Linked DNA regions of Homo sapiens: all the other regions are reported to be linked to region 7. The links are microRNA targets in miRTarBase. Many come from high-throughput screens and were not tested one by one. Region 7 holds a microRNA gene; each other region holds the end of a gene's coding sequence.

Region 1 (3,241 bases), not on the chromosome of region 7:
TGTATCCTTTGGCCAGCATCTCCCACCCCCAACCCCTCAACCAGCCCCTGGTAATCATCATTCTACTCCTGGTTCTATAAGCTCAACTTTTTTAGATTCCACACCATATAAGCAAGATCATGAAGTATTTGTCTTTCTGTGCCTGGCATATTTCACTTAATGTCCATCAGTTCCATCCATGTTGTCACAAGTAACAGGATTTAATTTTTTATGGCTAATATTCCACTGTGTATACAGACCACCTTTTCTTTATCCATTCATTTGTTGATAGACACTTAGGTTGATTCCATATCTTGGCTACTGTGAATGCTGCTGCAATGAACATGGGAGTACAGATTATCTCTTCAACATACTCATTTTCTTCAGATATTAATATATACTTAGTAGTGGGATTGCTAGATGCTATAGGTAGTTCTATTTTCACTTTTTGAGGAACCTCTACTGTTTTCCATAATGGCTGTGCTACTTTACATTCCCAACAGTGTGCAAGGGTCTCCTTTTCTGCATATCCTTGCCAACACTTCTTTCATCTTTTTGATAAGTCATTCAACAGGTATCAGGTATTACCATTATCTCATTGTGGTTTTAATTTGCATTTCCCTGATGATTAGTGATCTTGGACATTTCTTCATATACCTGTCAGCCATGTGTATGTTTCCTTCTGAGACATGTCAATTCAGGTCAAGTCATTCCTTCTAACAGTAATTGGACAGCAAAGCCAAATTATATTAAGGCACTTCCCAGTAACATTAAGCCATATCTTCAACACTTGGAAGAATGTTTTCTGAGCCTTCGTGCGGTAAATCCAAAAGGGAGTTTTGTTCACTGCTCTAACCTACTGCCTAGAACAATGCCTGGCACATAGCAGGCACTCACAGTTGTTGAATTATTAGGCAAAATATGCATAATATCTTTATTATCTTAGCAGAGGGGGTAAATCCTCAAGTCACAATATACAGAGAACAGAAAGTAAGTTGTAAAATATTTTTTATTGTAAAAACAAAGTCAATAAAGGTTGACAATGTAAATGTTATCTCACAACATTTCCCCTTGGTTCCTGAATTTGCTAGATTCCTATGTACCAGCAAATCTCCATTAGCATTTCTCAGGTTTCATGATCCTTTTCAGATATGTTGGTTGATTTTATGTATATATTGCTTAGAAACAAAAATCCACCTGATATTAAAACAAACCAAAAAAAATCATAAAAGCAAGCAAATGAACAAAAAACCCTAGTTTTGTTGTGCTTTTCTTTCACATTTCCTACAGGGAGATTTGTATATCTCAGATACTTTCAAAATCTAATAGGTAAGTAAAATTAGTGCCTTAACCAAACAGTAAGATACCAAAGAATCCTCCATCACAAGTTACTGAATCAAACTTCTCATGACATTTGCGGTATATTCAGATTTGAAGATTTTTTAAATTTAGAATTTAAAACAAACTTTAGACTGCTGATTTTCCATATTTCAAAGACTGTAGTTGTTTGCAGCATATAAATGGAAAGAGTAGTGCAAAACGCATCAAGTTTTATATGATAAATATATACTTTCAACCTAATGGCTGCCTCAAAAGTAAAGAGTGAACAATTACTTCTCAAAATAAATCTAGATTGACTTAAAGTTCACAATTTAGAAATAGCAATTGCTACTCTATTTCCATAGATTGCAAAATGATTTCAAATACAGATTATACATACAATTGTTTTACAAAAATAGAAATATTGTTTGGGATTTTACAAAACTTTATAAAATATAACACTATATTTGCAAATTCAAGATAGTTTCACACTGAAATAGACAATACTTCCACGATATGAAGTCTAGCCAAACTTAAAGTGGTCTGCCTTGAGGCCATTCTTACATATTATTTCTTCCAAATCTTCAAGCCTAGGTAAATCTGTGCTCTAACACAGGCTTTGTAAAAAAGAGACTGTTTATTTTCAAGGGTTTTATAAGATTTTCAATCCAGAAATAATGTTAAAGCATAAGAATTTATACCTAAAAAATATGTCTTACTAAAGGTAGAAGCTAATGCAGTATGACAATTCTGTATAACTGATAAATTTCAAACCAAATTCCTAAGAATGACAACTTTTATTAATTTAAAATATATATTTGACAATTATAATTTGGGACCTATATAAAACAAAAATATAATCACAACTATTTTATGGAAAAATATTTATTCATATAGAGTGAAAATACCTCCAAACTTAGTTATTTGTAGCTGTCAGATGAGAAGTATTTCCTAATTACACCCATTCATAAACACTCATTTTATCACTTCAAAGAGCACCAGTGTATTTTTTCAACAAACCAGAAAGTAAGAAGGTAGGGGCTTATTTCATGTAACAGTGCTATTATGATAAGGCACCACTAGGTATATGAAAAAGCCAAAGTATTTCCAAATCATGTGTTTTTGTTACTGGTGTCTTAACCATTAGACAGGATGGTTAGAAAAAAGCTGCTAACATTATTAATGAACCACATTATAGCCCCTTTCCCACCATTCTGTGCTTTTAGTTTTACTTATAACAGAAATGAAAACAACAACGTAGTACATGACCTGTTAAAACAAACATCTTTTCCCAACCTTCCAAGAAAATAACCTAAAAATAAACAAGAAACAAAAAATTTATCTGATATATTTGCAAAAGCCTATCCCTGTAGAAGAGTGTGAGGAGTGGGAGAAGGCAGGGGGACCTACTTTCTATGGAATATATTGAGGCACATAGGTTACAAGTTTCTCAGGCAAATTCATGGCTAGAACAAAACAGAGAGAGAGCTCAGAATCTTACATTTCCCCCAAAGTTGATTTCTCAGATAGCCACACCTGATTAAATACTCCCAAATGTGTCCTTAGTCACTGCTATCATCATCGTCATCATCATCAGACATATCATTTAAAGGAGACTTCAATGACTGGCTGTAAGAGTCTGATCTAGCAGGCTGGCATGTGGCCATGTCCCCAGCAGAAAGCAGGTCATAGCAGAAGTCACAAATCCGCACAGGCTTAGAGGACTGGCTGGGAAGAAGAAATCTCTTTTCAGAGCAGGGCCCACAGACAACAAAACCACATTTGCGGCAATGGTGGCGACGATTAACAGGTGTGAATTTTGCTTTCTGACAACGCATACATACAGTTGCCTCAGAGTCAGGAACCCAGACAGCAGCATGTTCATTACTGGGTGTCTTCCCACTTTTGGAGAGTAAATCAGTAACACATTTATTTATATGAT
Region 2 (3,241 bases), not on the chromosome of region 7:
ATAAAAATTTTAAAGGCAAAACATCCCACCAAAAAAAGAAAAGTGCTTATTAATGGCCATTCAAGCAGTGGGGTGAAGCGGGCTGACACAATGCACAGTATGGAAATAAGTAACCTTGGCTACAGTTTCCAAGGACACGGGGCTCCTGGCTGACAAGAAGAGCTGAGGTGAAGCTGAATGCAGCGTTGAGCCATTTTAATAAACGTTTATAAAGAAAAGCAGCGCAACCGTGTCCCACACTCCTTGGATCCCTATTGGTGGCATCTAATTAAACATTTCAAGTATTCAAGAGATATGAAAGGTAGTGAATACTTTTCATAGCAAAGGCTTTTTTTCTGTTGACATCTGCTGAATTTTCCTGTGGCACCTCCCAAGGAGTGACTAAGCCTACCATCCTTGGTAAGGAAAATGGGGATTATACTAAGGAATTTTATCTGAGGCATTCTGGAATTTCTCAGGAATAGAAACCAGCCCAGCTACCAAGTGAGCTTTTTAAAATGTTGATACTGGGCCACTGTGACATGACAGGCATCTATATAGCATTTCAAAAAAATGCTTCAGCAATACAAATTCAAACTGGGAAACTTTTTTTTTTTTTTTTTTAAGAGACAGTGTCTCGCTCTGTCATCACCTACGCTGTCACGTGCAGCCTCAAACTCCTGGACTTGTGATCTCCCGCCTCAGCTTACCTAGTAGCTGGGACCACGAATGTCCACAGATGCACTCCACCTACCCGGCTAATTATTTTTTGTATAATTAGCTGGGGTCTTTACCATCATGCCCAGGGCTGGTCTCTAACTCCTGGGAAACATTCTTATTGCAAAGGTAGATTCTGCTGTCATGGTTCTGTTATGAAATTTAGGCCAGGCGCAGTGGCTCACGCCTGTAATCCCGGTACTTTGGGAGGCTGAGGCGGGCGGATCGCCTGAGGTCCGGAGTTCAAGCCTGGCCAACATGGAGAAACCTTGCCTCTACTAAAAATACAAAATTAGCTGGGCGTGGTGGTGCACGCCTGTAATCCCAGCTACTCACGAGGCTGAGGCAGGAGAATCGCTTGAACCCGGGAGGCGGAGGTTGCACTGAGCTGAGATTGTGCCATTGCACTCAAGCCTGGGCAACAAGAGTGAAACTCCATCTCAAAAAAAAACAAAGAATTTTTAAGGCCAATTAGCAGCCTGCTTGCATTCCAGCTCCATGTGGAAGTGGTGCTGTCCAGGATGGAAGCGCCGAGGCCTCAGGAAAAGCCTGCCAAAAGCTGTCCCACTTGTGTTGTTAGAAACACCCCACTAGCCTTGTGGTGGGCAAAAGCTCCAAAGGTGCCCATTCAGAGTGAGCTGCCTCAGTCAGGAATGGCCAGAGACGGTATCATCGGGAGCGAGTGAGAAAAGCCTTTCTCTCCTCGGTGCCTCTCTGTGCATTCGGGCACGCAGAAGGTCAAGCAGAAGCCTCAGCAACAGCTGTTTAATGAAAATGTTCCACACCTTTCTTGGAGAACATGGAAAAGCTGTAAGATGGAGCAAGACAGAATTTGTCCTGAGAGGGGAAAATAAATTATGTAAAAGCAGCAATTATATAGACAAGACCAACTTTTTCAGTTTAAAAATAAAAGTCTAGGTCAGAGGGTCTAAACCACACAAAGTAAAGCACACGAGATTGAAAAATCTCTTCATAAAGCGCATAATCAACAATTCAGAGAGACGTGTGCCCTAGATTGGTAGTTCTTCCCAGGAATAACACAGCTCTTAGCCACTTGGGTTTTTCCCCTAATTTTATGCATTCACATTAAATGGCAAAGACAATTCCCTACTCCAGGAAGCATGAGCCTTTTCTATCTAAAATTCAGTACTGTTTCTGGACAATTTTCTTCTACTTCTTCTAAGTCATGTATCTATCCCATAAATATACATCTTGATACTTTACACTAGGCCGAGAGCTCCACATTTTCACCCTGAATTAATTTTCAGGTTTTTCTCACAGATACTGCAAAGTCAGGCAGTGTTGGTCCCTATGCAGTCATCTTTGGAAATTTGGAGAGAGGCCACTGCAAAGAGATTTCATTCCACTGCCTTTCCAAATCTTGTCTGAGAAAACTCCATGGTCACAGTCTTTGCATGCGGCAGAACAGGTTTGCAGCGAAGGCTCCCGGGGGGAAGGATATTATCCTAATACACAGGATTTGGGCCTCTGTCAAAATGAGCATTCTTCACGGCTGCAGAGTGCCCAGGCATGTTTTGGGAAAAAGTCTTGAGAGTGGACAGAAGTGAAGGGAAGGAGTAGAGAACTGGTTCAGTTGTGACAACCAAGTGGGTAAAATCTGCCCTCACCTGCCTGCTACTGTCCAGGGGAGATGGGCAGAATCTTCTCCATAAAAAGCAGAACATCAGTTTAATCGCAATTTCCTCTTTTTATTCATTTCAGACATTAACAAACTAAATGCAGATAAATGTATTCTACTTCACAGGACAGTAAGTGTCCTAGATAAAAACAAGCACTGGCTCCAAGCAGTCGCCCATTCTAGTCCCGCAACGGTAATCTATTTTTCTTCAAATGTCAGTTCTTCACAGTTTCAATACTGCAGCAGCAAGTTCTTCCTTAGATCAAGAAAGCCGTGGTCCGTATTTCAGAAAATCTTAAGTAGAGATAAGTGAGCAAGCTTCTGGTGCCACGTGCAGTTTGGGTGGGACAATTTTACCTGAAGTCCTGCAGACTGGCCGTGGGGATGACGGGGGCCCCGTCCCTTGCGGTGTTCTTCATATCGATTCAGGGAAGCGAACTGTGCAGTGCTCGCATTCTATTTATTGGTCCCTGTCACCCCGTGGGGTGTCACAGAAAAAAAAAAGTCAATGCTTCACAGAGGAGTTGTTCAGAGCAGGTCAGGCAGGACGAGGCCAGGAGGCTTTGGTTCGACACAGTTGATCCAGAAGTTGGCACAGCTGGCGTGATACTGGTGCCCTCCATAGGCCAGCTTGAAACTGTCTGTTTCTGAGTTGAATGCCTGCCAGAAATAAACAGAGATGTGGGGCAAGTCAGGCTTTTTCTGCATCTCAGAGCTTTTCAGCAACCAACATGTACATCTATCTCTCCAGGTCACAGAGGCTGAGGCCAAAATGGCACACACATAAAAGCTGAGCGGATAGCTACAGGAATTCAAGAGAGAAGGTTTTTTACTGCTAATTAAAGGTATAAAATTGTTACCACTAAACCTAGTTTCAGCAAAAGGTGGCCAAATCTTCCATGGAAA
Region 3 (3,000 bases), not on the chromosome of region 7:
CATACCAGCATTTTTATAACATTATCCATTACTAAGCTAACAGGCTACAAATCAATGTAATAGAATTTGACAGCTTTGAGTCATATTTCCTAAAGAGTCCAATTGTGACCATAAGCAAATACATCCACCCTTACACATAAGCACCAAAAATTTGCCAACCCATAAGTTAAGTTCTGTTAGGTTTCTGTTTGTTTATTTGAAAACATTAGTCTTCCCCTTTTCCACTAGGTATATAGGTAGAAAAATAAATGAAGTCAGCACTCTTTACGTCTCACTAAAATAAACTGTGACTCAAATACTGTGAGTGGTTATTTGCAAGGCTATAACTTTTTTAATGACAGATTTTCCTAAAAGAAACCACTATAACATCTGTCCAAGTACTCCAGAGAAAACAAAAAATACATAAAGATTAAAAGTCTATTACTTTAACAGCACATTGCCAAACACGGACAACTAGGATAAATGCCAAGAAACCTTAAAAAATAACTTTAAAAGATGCAACGTTCAAGCCATTCAAACGCGTAGGTTCCACAAACAACAGGAAAACAAGTCCAAGAGCAGTTCTACTTGTGCATGATGGTAACTCAGACTGTACTTCATCAAAGTTCATTCAGGTGTTTCATAGGCGTCTGAGCAGAGTTTGTTTTTTCTTCCTTGCTTGGAGATGTGTACACAGATTAGAGGAGAGGAAAGTCTTCCAGATGCTGATGTAAGCACAGCAGGCTTGGTTCCCCTTGATAAAGTATGAAGGCAGATTTAGTTGACTCAAGCTTTATCAGTTTCCCTAGTGAAAAGTCTTATGCATGCTGAAATAGACGAGTTACTGAATTTGTCATGCGAAGTATTTACATAAAGTGAGGTCAGTAACCCGACAGAATAAAAAAGGTAGTTGTTAAATTATTGTATAACCTTTTACAACTTGAATAACTTTGTGGGTAAGTGACACTGACGTTCAAACTCCTCAAACATACATTAACAAGAAACTATTTACTGCGTGAAGAGGCACACATCATGTAAAACATACACGTCATGGGAGGGATTCCTGCATAGCAGGAAAGTCGCTACCACTACATAACAAATGGCTATGCCAACAGTCAAAGCTGCCACGAAAGGGTACAACATTAGAATTCCCCTAAAATCTCAAGGAGTGTTTGCAATAGCACAGATAGATGCCTTTCGGAGAGTAAGTACATGTTTTGTTCAGAAGGGTATTTTTCACTGGAAAATCTGAACATCATGTAAATAAATCAATGTTCTAACTGGATAAGATTTAAGGCAATGCTACTCAGACCTGAGGGAAAAAAAATCCAAAAAAGTTTGTTTTTCTTCTGAATCATGAACAGGTCAAAATCAACATCAAAAAGCATTCTTCCAAGCATTCAATGCATCTTTAGGTATTATCAGCATTACAAAATAGAATCTACTTTCATACTCCAAATATGAAATGAGAAATTGTTCTGTGCTCTTCCTTGAGAACTGTAAAAAAAAAAATGCATGGCAGCTTAGGTAATTAATATTAAAACGTACCATGAAAATGAAGACTACTACACCTGCTGCACACAAAGGAGCCACCCTGCTGCAATCAGTGCTCCAGAATATTCGATTTCTCTTATGACTGACTTTGGTGCAGTGTGGAACGATCGTGGGTTCATAAATTAACTGTTGACATTAACTACAGACTAACAAATGATGATTAGACACAGTAAGTTCAAAAATTTTACATTTTGCTCCTGTTTGGCTGCTAAAGAGCAGCAATTTAAATCGATATAAAAACTTCTGACGACAAAGCCTGCTATACAGATAAAGTACATAATCAAAAATTAAGCAGCAATTAAATTTCTTATTTAAACTTATCTGGTATAGAATATTTACACATTTGGGAAGAGAGATCTCTGAAACCACCATTCTCTTTACTCGCCTCTTGCTCTCTGCCCACCCCAGCCCCTCCAAATCTAAATCAAGTGCCCTGAACTATATACACCTGTACTTTGGCTAAGCCGGCTAGATGTGACTCCTTCTACGGTCTTGGTCTGGAAGAAAAGACATAAAGTCTCAGAAGTCATTTGCAGCCTTCTTTTCTGAACAACAGTGTACTGTAGTCAATGAATCTGTGCTTTCACAGCAAGCGGGGGAAAAGGGTCCTCACACTTCACTCCCCAACCTGAATGGGGCAAGATCAAATGCCATCAGCTCGTTGCACCACAACAGGCCACCAGAGAAAAGGGAAAGAAAACGATCAGGACAAAGGCAGCAGCTATCAACAAAAGTTTCCCAACAAAGGAACCTCTCCTCCCTAGGTTCCCAAGGAAATAACACTCCCTCCTCACTCTCCCTCCCCTAGCACACAAAAAAATTAATTCACATCACGAGAACTGGTACTCTGGTTAAGTGTCAGGTAAGTTTAAGAAAGAGAAAATCCGTCACTTTTTACACTTTAACTGAGACATAAAACTAACAGAACACACAACATCACTGTGAAAGTAACTTCCTAAAACAGATCCAGTCTACAGAGTGCAACCAGGAAAACTTAAAGGAATATAGTTTGTTCACAATCTGCCGTGTACAGGATATTTATATTCTTTCTATGCCATATAAATAGCATTTATATAGCTTACACATTCAGAGACATGCACTGGGACTTTTAGGTAGTACAAATTTCTTCACAATCACATGTGCAAATTTTACAAATCACTAAGTGAGTATTAGTAAGCTTAGGCTGGACCATGTCTCGTATTATCTAACAAATTTAGCGGGGGTTCAGAATCATCCATTGGAAGAACCAGGCGTGTTCCTCGAATGACCAGTTCATGGTCCCCAAATGCAAGCTCCCGATCCAAGGCATCTTCAGAACTGTTTCCCATAAATCTCCTTGGGGCGCTGGATGTGGCCGGTTCAGTGTTCACAGTAGAATCTCCATATGTCAAACTGATGTCACCATCATTGAGAATAAGATCAGAATCATCATCTTTCAACTGTTCCTGGTTCTAAATGCAAATAAAG
Region 4 (3,241 bases), not on the chromosome of region 7:
ACTATGCCTCTGTACAACTCCTAGGTAGTTTTTCTAGAACTTGTTTCTCAAGTTGACATAGCTCTTTCTTTCCAATTCTGACAGGTATACAATAAAAGGCATCAGGAACCTGATTTTCTATGAACTGCCGACATATCCACACTTTTACAGTGAAATCTGTAATATGCTGAGAGCCACCAACAGAGGAGAAGAGGCCACGTGGACCTGCACTGTTCTCTACTCCAAATATGATGCCCAGAGGTTAGCTGCCGTGGTTGGTGTGGAGCGGGCGGCACAGATGCTACAGTCCAACAAGAATGTCCACCTCTTCATTACTGGAGAAAAATGAAATTTTGTTGGGCAGGAAGTGGTATTTGGCATGATACATAATGTTTGATTCTATGCCATTTGGACCCAATTCTGATTACTTACAGAAGAAGGACTGATACAAAGAAAGTGCATGAGGCAATGTCAGTATTATCTGACATCTTTCTTTTCAGGTCATGTGTCCCTGAAAAGTTAAATGTAAACCAGATTTTGGTAAATCCCATCTTTCAGAAGTGAAGAGGGGGCTAGAAGGACTCTGAGAAGTTGGTAGAAGAAAACTCCCACTTGTGAATATTTTTGTGAGACATAAATTCTTTTATTACGATTTACCTCTAATTTATTACACTTAGTAAATTCTTCCAGATTTTTCTATTTGTTTGACACTTCCTTAAAGTAAGGAATACACATTGCTTGCGAGAACTGGTTATGAGACATTGGAATACTTCTTGCTGCTACATGTCATCTTAATTTTGGATGGCATGGGTTTTGTAAAACTTATTCTGCCCCAGCCAAACTTTTTTGAAACCTTAAATAGTCTACCTTAATTCAGCCTAGAAGAGTACATTGATTTACTGATCTTTTTTCATATTCATAATACTAAATGTTTTAGTTTTGTTCAAATATATGCTTAAAATCACGTTATTTAAAAAACACATCAGCTCTGTCTCAAGAAGTAATTTTGTTGAAACTCCATGTTAAAATATCCATCTTCAACAGTAGTGTCTTCATAATAACTAGTCATTTTTTCAGTCATAAACAGATGCAAATAAAAAGGAAATTACACTTTTAAAAACATTTTTATTTTGAAACATTCTCAAACAGAAAAATTCCAAGTACAGAACCTGAACCATTTGAGAGTGAGTTGCCAACCCAGTGGGCCTATCACCTTTAAATACTTTAGTATATATTTCCTGTAAACAATTAAGGGTATTGTTTGTGATTAGGAATGCCCCACCAATAAGGATAATGTGAATATTTCAGAATCCAAAAAAATTCGAAACACGTCTGGTCCCAAGCATTTCAGATAAGAGATATTCAACTCATCCTAGTATGGACTCGTAGTTTCTTCTTTTATTCAATGGGTTACGGTTTGTTACATCATTATTTCTTTAGATGCGTAACTGGTCTCAAATATGGCCGCTGGGAGCACCTTCAGGTTAGCCCCTGTGTACTTTTGACATGTCCCCCATCTACTTGGGCACTGCTGTATTTTTTGACAATGAGACATTCCAGGTTTCTCTACTCCAGCCCTGCTTGCTTTTAGTAGGAAATTATTATAAAAGGTTAGATTGGAGTGCTTACTATTGTGGTGCCACTCATCCCAGGCTCAGTGGTCAGAACTTGGGAATTGTGTACATGTATGCACACACATATGTACACACGTTGTCTAAATTTGCTTCACATTAATATCTAAATTTACTTTCATATCCATATATTGAAAACCATGAATTCACACCAGTACCTCCAATTCTAGTCCAACAACACAGGATTGCTTCTCATTTTCTTTCCATATTGATAACTCCTTTCTCAGACAGTGGCTCCCATTATCCTCAATGTAATAACCCATGATTGGTACAGATTTTTTTTATCCTTGGGCACGCTTAAAATTACTTAGCAAAAACAAAAAGTAAAATCAGTTTTGAAGTAATATTTCTGCTAAATATTTAGACATTTTTACTTCTTTTTCTTCAGCATGGTAAGTAAAACCATTTATTCCATATTTAGATGGTTTTCTAAATTTCAGAAAATTTAGTTAGATAAAAGCCGACCGAACCCATGCTACAAAGAACTTTTTGTATCTATAGGCATGCCCTGTGGTTACTGGCGTAATTGTGCTGCTGTTTATCATAGATCCTGTATATTATGAGAATAAGAAATGAGTTTATTTACCTCATTCAGAAATGTGAGGCGAAGGGACTGTAATTACCTGGATCTTTTTTTTTTTTTTTGAGATGGAGTCTCGCTCTGTTGCCCAGGCTGGAGTACACTGGCATGATCTTGGCTTACTGCAATCTGTGCCTCCCGAGTTCAAGCGATTCTCGTGCCTCCGCCTCCCAAGTAGCTGGGACTACAGGCGCATGCCACCATGCACAGCTAATTTTTTATATTTTTAGTAGAGATGGGGTTTTGCCATGTTGGCCAGGCTGGTCTCAAACTCTTGACCTCAAGTGATCTGCCCACCTCAGCCTCCCAAAGTGCTGGGGTTACAGGCCTGAGCCGCCACGCCTGGCCAATTACCTACATCTTTTTCTACTGCCATATTCTTTTGCCTGTGAATTGTAGTTCATCTCGTGGTTTCCATTATTACTATTCACACGACTCCCAAATCTCCAGCTTCTCTGGCTCTCCACTCACATGTGAGTCTGGATTTCAAATCCATGATGTAGCCCCAGAAATAACCATTTTATTAAGCACCCCTAGTGATTTTCATGCTGGCATAGAGCCAAACCCAGCCAACTGCTTCTTGCCTGCAGAGAACACTGAGGATTTCAAGTGTGAACAAAGTAGTGTTGCTTTGTTCCTGGCTCAGCACCTGAAAAGAAGGTAAGCCTCTGCAGTTAGCCCTGGCTCCTTAGTGCATTGCAGAGTGGAGTCTCTGCAATGGTTTTATTAAAAGGATGCCTTGAAGATCTGGTCTCTCTCAACACACAATAAGCGAGAAGAGAGGCTACTGAAATACGGATGCGTGAGCTGGAATTACACACTACCTTGATGTTAACAAGGCTCATTTGCAGCAAGCAAGTGCCTATATAGGGTCTGAAATATAGACAAAGGATGGTCCCAATCCTGGAAACAGTGGAATTAAAAGGTATGGAAAGGAACTTACCCAGAAAGTAACACTTTTAAATGTTTTTTCTTTTCCCATAGTTAAAACAACCAGCTTAGCACTTTTCTTTTTGAGAGAGAAAAAGCTTTGAATCGTGGATGCTTCTCA
Region 5 (3,241 bases), not on the chromosome of region 7:
AACTCACCAGGACTCACTTCCATTCACAGAGATATGCAGCCCCTACTCAGTGCCCTGCCAAATGTGGGCATGTTTGACCCCAGCTTCAGAGTCCCTGGCACCCAGGCAGCCAGCACCAGCCACCAGCCTCCGACCCGGATTCAGGGAGCCCCTTCAAGCCACTGGCTCCCTCAGCAGCCCCACTTCCCACTGCTGCCAGCCCTCCCCAGTCTCCAGCAGAACCTGCCCATGCCAGCTCAGAGATCTTCTGCAGAAACCAACGAGCTGAGGGAAGCCCTTCTGAAGATCTTCCCTGACTCAGAGCAAAGACTGAAAATAGACCAGATCTTGGTGGCCCACCCATACATGAAAGATCTAAATGCGCTTTCTGCCATGGTGTTGGATTGAAGATTGTGCTGAGCGCTGAGCTTGCGCTCAGGGCTGGCTGATCAAACTCAAGCTCACACCTGTACCTGATGGGAATGAACATAATGTGAAGAAACTTATTTCCCAGTGTAAACGCAGTTGTACAGAAAAAAAATGTTTTGGGTATAAATCTGGGTTTTCAAAACCAGCTTTTTTCTATATATAAATTATGCTGCTATTACAGATTTAACATTTTCTGTTAAAGGAAAGTCTACATTTTCTGCCTGTTCAGAACTGTTTAATAGCAGTTACTCTTGAGTGTATTTACCTTTTTATGTTTTTTAAACTATTTTCCTTAAAGCCGAAAATATTGACAAATGGATATGGTTAGCCTTTATAAATAAATAAAAAAAAAAGTGTTGCTTTCTTAAGGAAAGCAAGACGTCTTAAAGTATATTTTCTTGAGATGAGTATGTCCCATCACTACCATGAAGTGTGCTCACCCTTCCAGCCTCCTCTGCCCTCACCCCCGGAGTTAAAGTGGGTAAGAGTTGGTTTGTTCTGCAGTCTTTGGTTGGAGTGTTGTGAAAGTGGACCCGCGGTGCCACTAGATGGCACTTGGTGCCTAGCCATGGTGAATGACCAGGGCGAAGTTAGTCTCACAGAATACCAGGGCTAGAAGACATCGTGGAGCCCATGGAGTCCCACCCTCCTTCCCCCTTCCACCCTGCGCAAAAGGGGACGGCCCAGTGTGCACGCCGTCCGGCCATGCCCACAGCCACAGCCACAGCTGAGGAGTGGCCGGGCAGGCAGCAGGCTCCCCAGCCAGGGCTTGACACGCCCACAGTCAGGGGCCTCCACATGCCTGGCCTGGCTCTGGAAGTCACGTCTTAGCTTCTGAACACCGTAGCGGGTTATGAGGAAGTTTAATGAAGAGCCCGGTCACTGTGGCCATCTTGTGTCCCCAACTGCAGGAGACGCCCTGATGTGGAGTTTGTACAGCTTTGCCAAAAAATGGTTTTCTATTCTCAAAAGTGACCCAAGCCAATAAATAGCATTAGTAGCTTCTGTGGGGGGATCCCAGAGCCCCTGTATTTATTTTCCCTGTGTTTGTCTCTAGTGTCCTCCTAAACAGCCTTTCCTGTGAGTCTTTCTCAGAATTGATATCTTAATATTGTCTGTTCTAGGTGTTGCCCAAATTCAGTGTCAGTGAAGTTCTTTTCCTGGGCAATCTTAACATCTTTACTCTTATTGTCTGGACCTTCAAAGGGCTTTGTATTTTACACCTGCGCCCCCAGGCTGCTCACAGTCGGCTTGCTGCCTGTCCTGCCTGTCCGGATCTTGTCTCCTAGTCCTGAGGAGCGGAGGCTGAGAACTCAGTGCTGGTTTGTAAATGGTGAGGGGACTTGGGGGCATCCCAGAGTGCTCCCTCCAGGCCTGCTTCTTGGTTTTGTTTGATCACTGCGTTCTTCAAGGGATGAATCCAGAGCCCTCCATGAGGCCAAGCTTGTCCTTCAATCATGTTTCCTCTCAGATGCGTCCGTGATGCCTCCTAATGTGGAACTGGTTGTCCATTGTTTGGGCCTATGGCCAAGTCACCCAGCTGTGGAAGCAGAGGTAGAAGACGAGGCCAGCCAGGAGGGCGACTTCAGTCACAGCTCCCATGCCTCAGCTTTGTACCTGTTTTCAAAAGCACAACTGAGGTGTGCGGGCTGGAGCTGTCTTGCAGTGATTCTGGCCTTCTGGCTCATGGTTCAGTCCAGCAGCCTGGCTGACCCACTATTTCTCCTCTGCTTCAGAGGAAACCCAGGAAATGCCCTTACTGCCAGGCTGAGTCTCCACCCATGCTGGTTGGTGCTGGCTAGGCTGAGGGGGCCACCACTTTTCCTGGCTAGAAGCTACTTGACCTTTGATGTTTGAGTTCTGTAAGTCTTCGTGTTCTGACTTACTGCTTCAGAGGGATTGGCCTGTCCCCTTTCCCTTTCTCGGCTATGGGAAGGAAGGATTGCTCATTGGTTGCCTTCATCAGTTACAGCATGAGACGGAATTCATCATTCCTTCCGAAACCCCTGATATTTAATATTTAATATTTAAAAACCCAAATTATCAAACCATTAAGAACTCATTACTGGTTCTCAGCCTCCTCCAGTACTAGCCTCAGTGTGGCTGCTGCATAAGTATCTGTAGCCTGTCTACCTCCTGCAGTGGGGCCGCTCGCCTCTTCCCTGTCTACTGCTCAGGCTCTCCCACTTCGTGGCATCCATGTAAAGTAGGTGGCAGGGCAGAGATGTCACTCTCATTCAACAGGGAGGATGTCTGTTGCTCAGAGAGGTTGTCCTGAGGGGCTGGGTGATTCCTGGGCCTACATTCTTCCCGAGGCTCCAGGCCGCTGTCTCTGGAAGTAAAAGAGCCTTGTCTGACCTTAATGCAAGCAGTCTGTTTGAACCCCTGTAGGCTGCATTCAGGAGACAGAAGGTGTCTGGGCCATCCTGGGCGGCCGGTCAGCGTTGCTAGGCAGGCTCGGCTGTCTGGCCGGGACTTGGGCCTGGGTGGCTTTTGAGACCAGTGAAGAAGGGAGAGCCGGCCTCATGCCGATGCGGCTTGTGGCACGGCTGGGATGTGAGGGAGGACTCAGATCTACACACAGAAACCCCTCTTCTCCCCGCCCTCCCCCAGCTCCTACCTGCCTCCCACGCCTCAGGTGTGGCTGCCTGTGGGACCATCCCCCAACCCCTTTCCTCGCACCTCCTTGTCCTCACCCAGTTCCTGCAGTGTCTCTGACCCACGCCTCCCGCCTCCTGGCCGACTTGCCCAGGAGGTGTCTCTGGCTCACCTCCGTCTGTTCATCACCTTCCTCCCCAGTGTTTCCACTTATCTTGGATGTTTTAGATTGAAA
Region 6 (3,000 bases), not on the chromosome of region 7:
GTGTTATTTTAGCATGAATGGAACCCCCTGAGTAATGTGACTGACTCAGGAAGAGCCAGTTCATGCAGCTATTAGCCTCCAGTTCTATCCCAGTAAAGAGAATATTCTTGTTGGATTTGTGGAAAGGCTCTCAGAGGAAGGAAGAGAGACATTAGTGAGAATTTCCCTCAGATAAAACATGTTTTAATTTAAAGAAATCCTGCTCAATTATTTGCCCCCCACCAATATTACATATGAATAAATTAGGATGGAAATTGAAAGCCTTGCTTTTTGTCAAGAAATTTTTTTCCTGCCAAATTTCCCATTGTTATAATGCAAACACATATATTTAATGGACAGGCCAATCTTCCTCCTACTTTCTTTCTGCGTAAAGATTGGTTCAGTTCTAGAGTCAAGGACTTAAGAGTTTTTACTACATCCTTTCTGTCAGTTAAAGTAGTAACTGCATATAGTACTTTATTTGAATTTTATTGCATTTCTAAGTATTAAATGTACATCACAGACAATTTTGAAAATACCAAAAAGCCCAAGGAAGATTACAATCACCCATAATCCCACCACTCAGAAAAAAACCCTTATTACTAATAGTAAAAATTACTAAGTTGGTTATTTAAAAGGGTGCAGTAAAATGTCAAGAACACTTAAGTAGAAATCATAAAAAAAAACCTAAGGAAAAAGTAAAGGCATTTAAATTTGCTTTCAAATGAGGAAAACAAAGATTACCTATCCACAAACATGTTTTCCAGATTCCCTTCCTCCTTGGAAGTATCCACGAAATAGAATCAATGTGATTAAGAGACCATAGTAGTCAGTTCTCTTGCCTAAACTCTATGCTCAATCATACCTCTGTTTGTTACTGTATAAAAGATGAATGTTTTTCAGCAGTCGGGTATATCCATAAAGGCTCCTAATCACCAAATTACAGTAATACTTTATGAATGAACGAAGGGCTGCAAACTGTCATCAAAATCTATTACCTGTTTTATCTACTGAATTTCAGATTTCATTCTCTTTAACTGCTAAAAGAGTTTTTTTCCCTTGTGAAATTTTATAAGCACTTTCTGCTACCAATTTCCAATAGAAAACCCCATACAATCACAGCATAAAACAGCTGAGGGTGGCTAAAAAGAGACATACTCAGGAGTCATCTGAAAAAGGCCATAGAGCCACCCAGAGGACTTGAGTAGATGAAATTATTTTAGTGTATGAAGTCTATTTGGTGTACAAAGTCTATTTCTTGGAATGACACATCTCATGTGACCTAGGCTCTGTGAAAGTTAGGGTTTTGTGGACAACTATCTCTGGGAAATGCTTTACAGTATATATTCTTCTTGAGCTTATTATACATTAGCATATTAAGGGTTATGAGCAGTCAAGAAAAAATAAAATAATTCACCTTTGTTTCAGACAACGTTTCCCAAACTTCTTTGACCATGAATCCTTTGGAGGCATAACACTATTAATAACTCAAGATGCTCAGGATTTATGGAACACATTTTATGAATGCTACCTTAATGAATGTCCAGGATCTTCAGCCATATTAGTAATCCAGAGTTCAGCAAACTCAACAATGCTCACTCCTTTATTTAAATGTATATAGACTGAATTTGAATAATTTACCATTATAAATATTTATTTTTAAAAATCAACATATATGAGTAAATTTTAAAGTATGTAAATAATATCTCAATAAAGCTATTTTGGTTTAAGAAATCAATGTGTTGTTTCAGAAATACTGAAAAGTAGAGTTACTTAGTGAACATGATATCAGAGCAAAAACAGGATAGTTTTAAGTAATATTTTATGCTGGCCAAGGTGACTCATTCCTGCACGATAAGAGAAGATACATCTACAGTTAATATAATGTCTTCCAGACTCTATGCCTCTCTCCCAATCCTACCTCTTCTAGCTTTTTTCCCCAAATATTCTGGCTAATGTTTATAAATTAATCTACTTAAGTTCTCCTAATAGTACAAGAGAGTAAATGCATACTGCAGGGTGGCAATGAACAGCAGTAGCCATAGTCCAAAACAGCCCACTATAAATGTAGTCTTTTACCTAATGTTCTTCCAGGTATATATATGTGAAAAAATATTTTAAGAATTGCAAAGATTAAAAGTTTCTAATTCCAAATCTTTAGGTATAACTGCTATATAAAGAATATATGTTATATATTTACCTGTGACATTATATGGTCTAATACACATCAAATATAACCTATTTGAGAAGTAACATTCAAAGCTAAAAATCTCCCTTCTAATCTTACTAATTTTTTCTAGAAGTAAAAATTGACAAGGTTGATCTAAGTGCTAAATCAGAATCATACTCCATGCATCCGTCCTAGAGTTGATACAAGAAAAGCTTATCTCATTTGTTGCCATAGATGGATTATACCAGCTAAATAAATTTCAACGGTCACTTTTAGTTTCTTTATCTCTTGGTTCAAATACAAGTAGCATAAAAAGAAAAGAAGATGGTACTTTTTAATATGCAAACCATTTATTGAACTATTTACTATTTTAAAATATCATTCTTAAAAGAGGCCACAAAAATTATAACATTCAGAAATTTTAGGTAAACTCCAAAAGTAAGCTTTTTTTTTTTTTGGTAGTCAACTTGTACCAAGTTTAGCAGCAAGAGGATACTTCCTTAGAGACTTTCAGTGGACTTAAACTCAGTTTCCGCTGGTGCTATGTAAAGCATCCACGATGGTTTTATTGTACTCTGCAATCTGCTTGGTCACATTTTTCTTAATTGGCTGGTAATCACTCTCTTGACTCTTGGTTGCTATGACTAATTACATGAGTTAAGGGGGAAAACAATGTCAATAAAAATCTAATTGTGCCTGAGAAAGGAACTAAATACTGACATTTTTCATACTGAAGATGGTACAAAAAAGCACAATTAGAATACTTTAAAATACAGTACATCATTTTAACAGATTAAGCATCAATTAAAACCTAAAATGCCAAGCTAAACTTACCGCAAAAAATTCATATA
Region 7 (3,241 bases):
TGCAATGCATGTTGAACAATGACATGCAACTGTGGATTCTACAGAATTGGAGAGTAATACTGACTGGGGTACTGGCATGTGCATTCCCCTAGGATTCTAGCATTCTTTCTCCGTCCCCTGCCTGATTCATCAAATCATTCTCTCTCTGCAAAGATTCCACACTAATTTGGTTTCTTAGATTATCTCTATGATTAGGAAATCTTACAAAGGGGAACTGGTGTTTGAATCACCAGAAAACTTATTTCGACTCTCACACTATACTGACTTTTGAGTAGAAATCTTTGTACATAAGTTGGGATACTGTAAACCATGGCCTAAATTATTGTTAACTCAATTGGTCAGTGGAAATTTAGACATAAAGGGCTAAGAATAAAGGTCTCAAATTGTTGTCAGCTCCCAACATGGTCTACTAGTAACTCCATCAACCAACTAACACTTAAGTTTCTAAGTTATTAAAAAACTGATGAGACCAAGTTCTGGATTTAAATACAGAATAATTCAGAGGATTTGCATATTTGTTCTCTCTGCTGGAAGCTTTCTCCCCAAAATGTCTACATGCACAGTTTCCCCCTCACCTCCTTCAAACCTCTGCCTAAGAATCACATTTTCAATAAAGCTTTCCTTTAACCACTCAATTACTTAGCAATTTGTCCTCTACCACTCTCTGCCCTATTCCCAATCCTCTTTATCCTGTTTGATGGTCTCTTTTTAAAAAAATAGCACTTATCACCTAATACACACTACACAATTTACTTAATATGTCACTAGAATGAATGCAAGCTCCACAAAGCCAGATCTTTGTTTTCTTCATTAATATGTTCCAAATACCCAGAACGATGTCTGGCATCTGGTAATCAGTAAATATTTACTCAATGAATAAATGAATGAATGAACAAATGAAGGGTTCCTTCGAAAAGCGTACTTCCCAATCCATTTAAAGTATTTGATATTTATAAAAATTAAACGGGCAAATATATCTATTATTATATAAGGAAGCTAGAATTAAATATATATATTCTCTTCCAAACAAAGAATCCCAACTATATGGTCAATCTAACAGTATATCCTTTTCACACTTTTCTTGTAACAATAAACACCACTCAAATATCATGAAGAACAGGTCTCAATGCCTTCATAGCCCTGTACAATGCTGCTTGATCCATATGCAACAAGGCAGCACTGTAAAGAAGCCGAGGGCAGTAAGAAAACTTCCAAGAATTTCACTAATCAAATGCAACATTAAGCACTGGTGGTATAGTGGTGAGCATAGCTGCCTTCCAAATGCAAAATTAAGACTAAAAAAAATGCTTTCACAAAGTATCTCAAAATGTCTTATGCTTAGAACTTTCTTTTACATCCTCAAGGGATTTAGGTTGTGTTTTTCTGAAAAAAAATTCTGAATAAATTTCTCCTATTTCAATTTGAATTATCTGCTACTTTCTTTAAAAGTAATATAGCAACTGGATACGTAACATATATACCTAATGAGTCTTGGCATTTAATGGGTTACATCTCAATCCCAGAGGCCTCCTTAGGGAAAGTGAAGAAGCCCTGCTAGGTGTATATAGGACTCCAATTCACATTTTTGATAATTCAAGTTTTGTGTTTTTTGTTTTTTTACCTCATTAACAGCACACATTCGTGCCACAGAACCAATGTTATTGGTGATAGTAACTAAAGTAGCTCTTGCCAGATCTTCTTTACTAACAGATTCTCGCTTCTCCTTATAAATCATATTCCCAAAACTGCAGAAAAATGAAAAATAAAGTCAAATCTGCTGATAAAAAGCAACATTTTACGTATTAACAGATATATCTACAACCTGGATATTTTTATAAAATTAGGACCAAAAAGTAGAAACACATAGGGATAAGATCAAAACAAACTAACAAAAAAAATCTATGCAAGAGTAAAGTAATACCTTTCAAAGAATTAAGGTTAAAATGACATCTCAAAAAAAGCATAGTTAGTTATTATAAGAAAGCAAAGATTACCAAAATATCTTCACTTAAACCTGATTCAAAACAAATTAGCCAAAATTACAAAATGTTTCCAAAAGTATCTCAGCTTTAACTTCAAATTCTTTTTCATTCAGTCACAAGAAACATTTATGACATACCAAGCTTTGTGCTGGAGACAGATAGTCCCTCAAACAGTGAATTAGTCTAGTGCAGCACTGTCCAATAGAAATAAAATACGAGTAATATATAATTTCATATATGTTCTATTAGCCACATTAAAAAGGTAAAAATAAACAAGTGAAATTAATTTTAATTGTACATTTCATTTAAGCCAATATATCCAAATATCATCAATTCAACATGTGGCACTCATAAGCCAAGTGCCTTACGTGGCTAGAGGCTACTGTAATGGACAATGCAGGCCTACATACAAAAGACAGCAAGAGAAGCGCTAACAGTAACAGGGAAAAAATCCAAACAAAGGCTAACCCCAAACAAAGGCTAACCTTGGAAATACAAACAAAAAAATATCTTTTATTACAGTGGTAAGAGAAAAAAGTTAAGAAGGTATGAGGCAGGGCTTTCAGAGCAAAAGGACCAGAAAAAGCCAGAAAAAATGAGAAGAAAAATCTTAGGCAGAGGCAACTAAAGGTTAAAGGCACACAGAAATGAGAAATGAAAACATCTATGAAATCACAAGATGTTTGGTCGGAGTGAAGCGTCTATGCAAGGGAGAGGCAGGAGATATTACTGAAGAGTGAGACAAAGTCCACTATCAAAGGGCACTGGATTCCCTGACAAAGAACTTGGGGTGCACAAGCAACAATGGTTAGGAAGCATAATGGGAGACAAGACTGATAAACAACAGAACAGTAAATTTAAAATATTTAGGAATCAATTTAAAAAGCCATGTATGGACATATTTGGAGAGGCCTTTTTAAATGTGTGAAAGGCACAAAAGTAGCCTTAAACAAACAGACAAGCTAAGTTCTTCAACAGCAAGACTTACTATAAAGATATCATTTGTCCCTAAGTTAATATGTAAACTTACTGAGATTCCAAAAACATTTTTGTAATAGAGAAAATGTTTGCCAAGTTCATACAGAAAATCAAGCAAAGGAGTGAAACTAGCCCTTCTAGAGATTAAAACATACTTTTTATGCCTCTATAAAGCTGAAAGTATAATGCTGGTACATCAACAGAATGAAAAGCCAGCATATGTAAAAAAGCCATCTCAAATCAGTGAAATAAAGATGGATTATTAGACATTAGGGCCTTCT

The links. The annotated mature microRNA hsa-miR-103a-3p reads AGCAGCAUUGUACAGGGCUAUGA and lies in region 7 at 1,133-1,155, opposite strand. An mRNA with a match to its seed (bases 2 to 7 or 8) in the 3' UTR can be bound and repressed. Matches are read on the target gene's strand: a 7mer-m8 pairs with bases 2 to 8, a 7mer-A1 pairs with bases 2 to 7 and ends in A, and an 8mer does both.
Region 1: miRTarBase lists PLEKHF2 as a target of hsa-miR-103a-3p. Seed matches in the 3' UTR shown: 8mer at 1,488-1,495.
Region 2: miRTarBase lists SYNRG as a target of hsa-miR-103a-3p. Seed matches in the 3' UTR shown: 7mer-A1 at 2,574-2,580.
Region 3: miRTarBase lists SLC9A6 as a target of hsa-miR-103a-3p. The part of its 3' UTR that is shown has no 7-base or 8-base seed match.
Region 4: miRTarBase lists UTP25 as a target of hsa-miR-103a-3p. The part of its 3' UTR that is shown has no 7-base or 8-base seed match.
Region 5: the mRNA of N4BP1 is a reported target of hsa-miR-103a-3p. Seed matches in the 3' UTR shown: 7mer-m8 at 575-581 and 7mer-A1 at 2,513-2,519.
Region 6: miRTarBase lists IFT74 as a target of hsa-miR-103a-3p. The part of its 3' UTR that is shown has no 7-base or 8-base seed match.

Annotation. Positions count from the first base shown.
Region 1 is chr8:95,154,415-95,157,655 of GRCh38, reverse strand. PLEKHF2 (pleckstrin homology and FYVE domain containing 2) reads right to left here. Exons shown (of 2, transcript NM_024613.4): 2 at 971-3,241. The coding sequence ends at 2,862. Among named protein-coding and RNA genes, the nearest start is that of PLEKHF2, 22 kb to the right of the region's middle.
Region 2 is chr17:37,516,077-37,519,317 of GRCh38, forward strand. SYNRG (synergin gamma) reads right to left here. Exons shown (of 22, transcript NM_007247.6): 22 at 1-2,995. The coding sequence ends at 2,864. Among named protein-coding and RNA genes, the nearest start is that of DUSP14, 28 kb to the left of the region's middle.
Region 3 is chrX:136,044,436-136,047,435 of GRCh38, reverse strand. It overlaps SLC9A6 (solute carrier family 9 member A6), which reads right to left. Exons shown (of 18, transcript NM_001379110.1): 18 at 167-2,984. The coding sequence ends at 2,712. Among named protein-coding and RNA genes, the nearest start is that of SLC9A6, 61 kb to the right of the region's middle.
Region 4 is chr1:209,851,120-209,854,360 of GRCh38, forward strand. UTP25 (UTP25 small subunit processome component) reads left to right here. Exons shown (of 12, transcript NM_014388.7): 12 at 85-3,241. The coding sequence ends at 328. Among named protein-coding and RNA genes, the nearest start is that of UTP25, 25 kb to the left of the region's middle.
Region 5 is chr16:48,540,050-48,543,290 of GRCh38, reverse strand. It overlaps N4BP1 (NEDD4 binding protein 1), which reads left to right. Exons shown (of 7, transcript NM_153029.4): 7 at 30-3,241. The coding sequence ends at 387. Among named protein-coding and RNA genes, the nearest start is that of N4BP1, 69 kb to the left of the region's middle. RefSeq lists enhancers at 669-1,169, 1,170-1,670.
Region 6 is chr9:27,062,411-27,065,410 of GRCh38, reverse strand. IFT74 (intraflagellar transport 74) reads right to left here. Exons shown (of 20, transcript NM_025103.4): 20 at 1-2,793. The coding sequence ends at 2,675. Among named protein-coding and RNA genes, the nearest start is that of TEK, 45 kb to the left of the region's middle. RefSeq lists a silencer at 1-160.
Region 7 is chr5:168,559,772-168,563,012 of GRCh38, forward strand. It overlaps MIR103A1 (microRNA 103a-1), which reads right to left and starts at 1,202; the gene lies at 1,125-1,202. It overlaps PANK3 (pantothenate kinase 3), which reads right to left. Exons shown (of 7, transcript NM_024594.4): 5 at 1,622-1,745. MIR103B1 (microRNA 103b-1) reads left to right here and starts at 1,133; the gene lies at 1,133-1,194.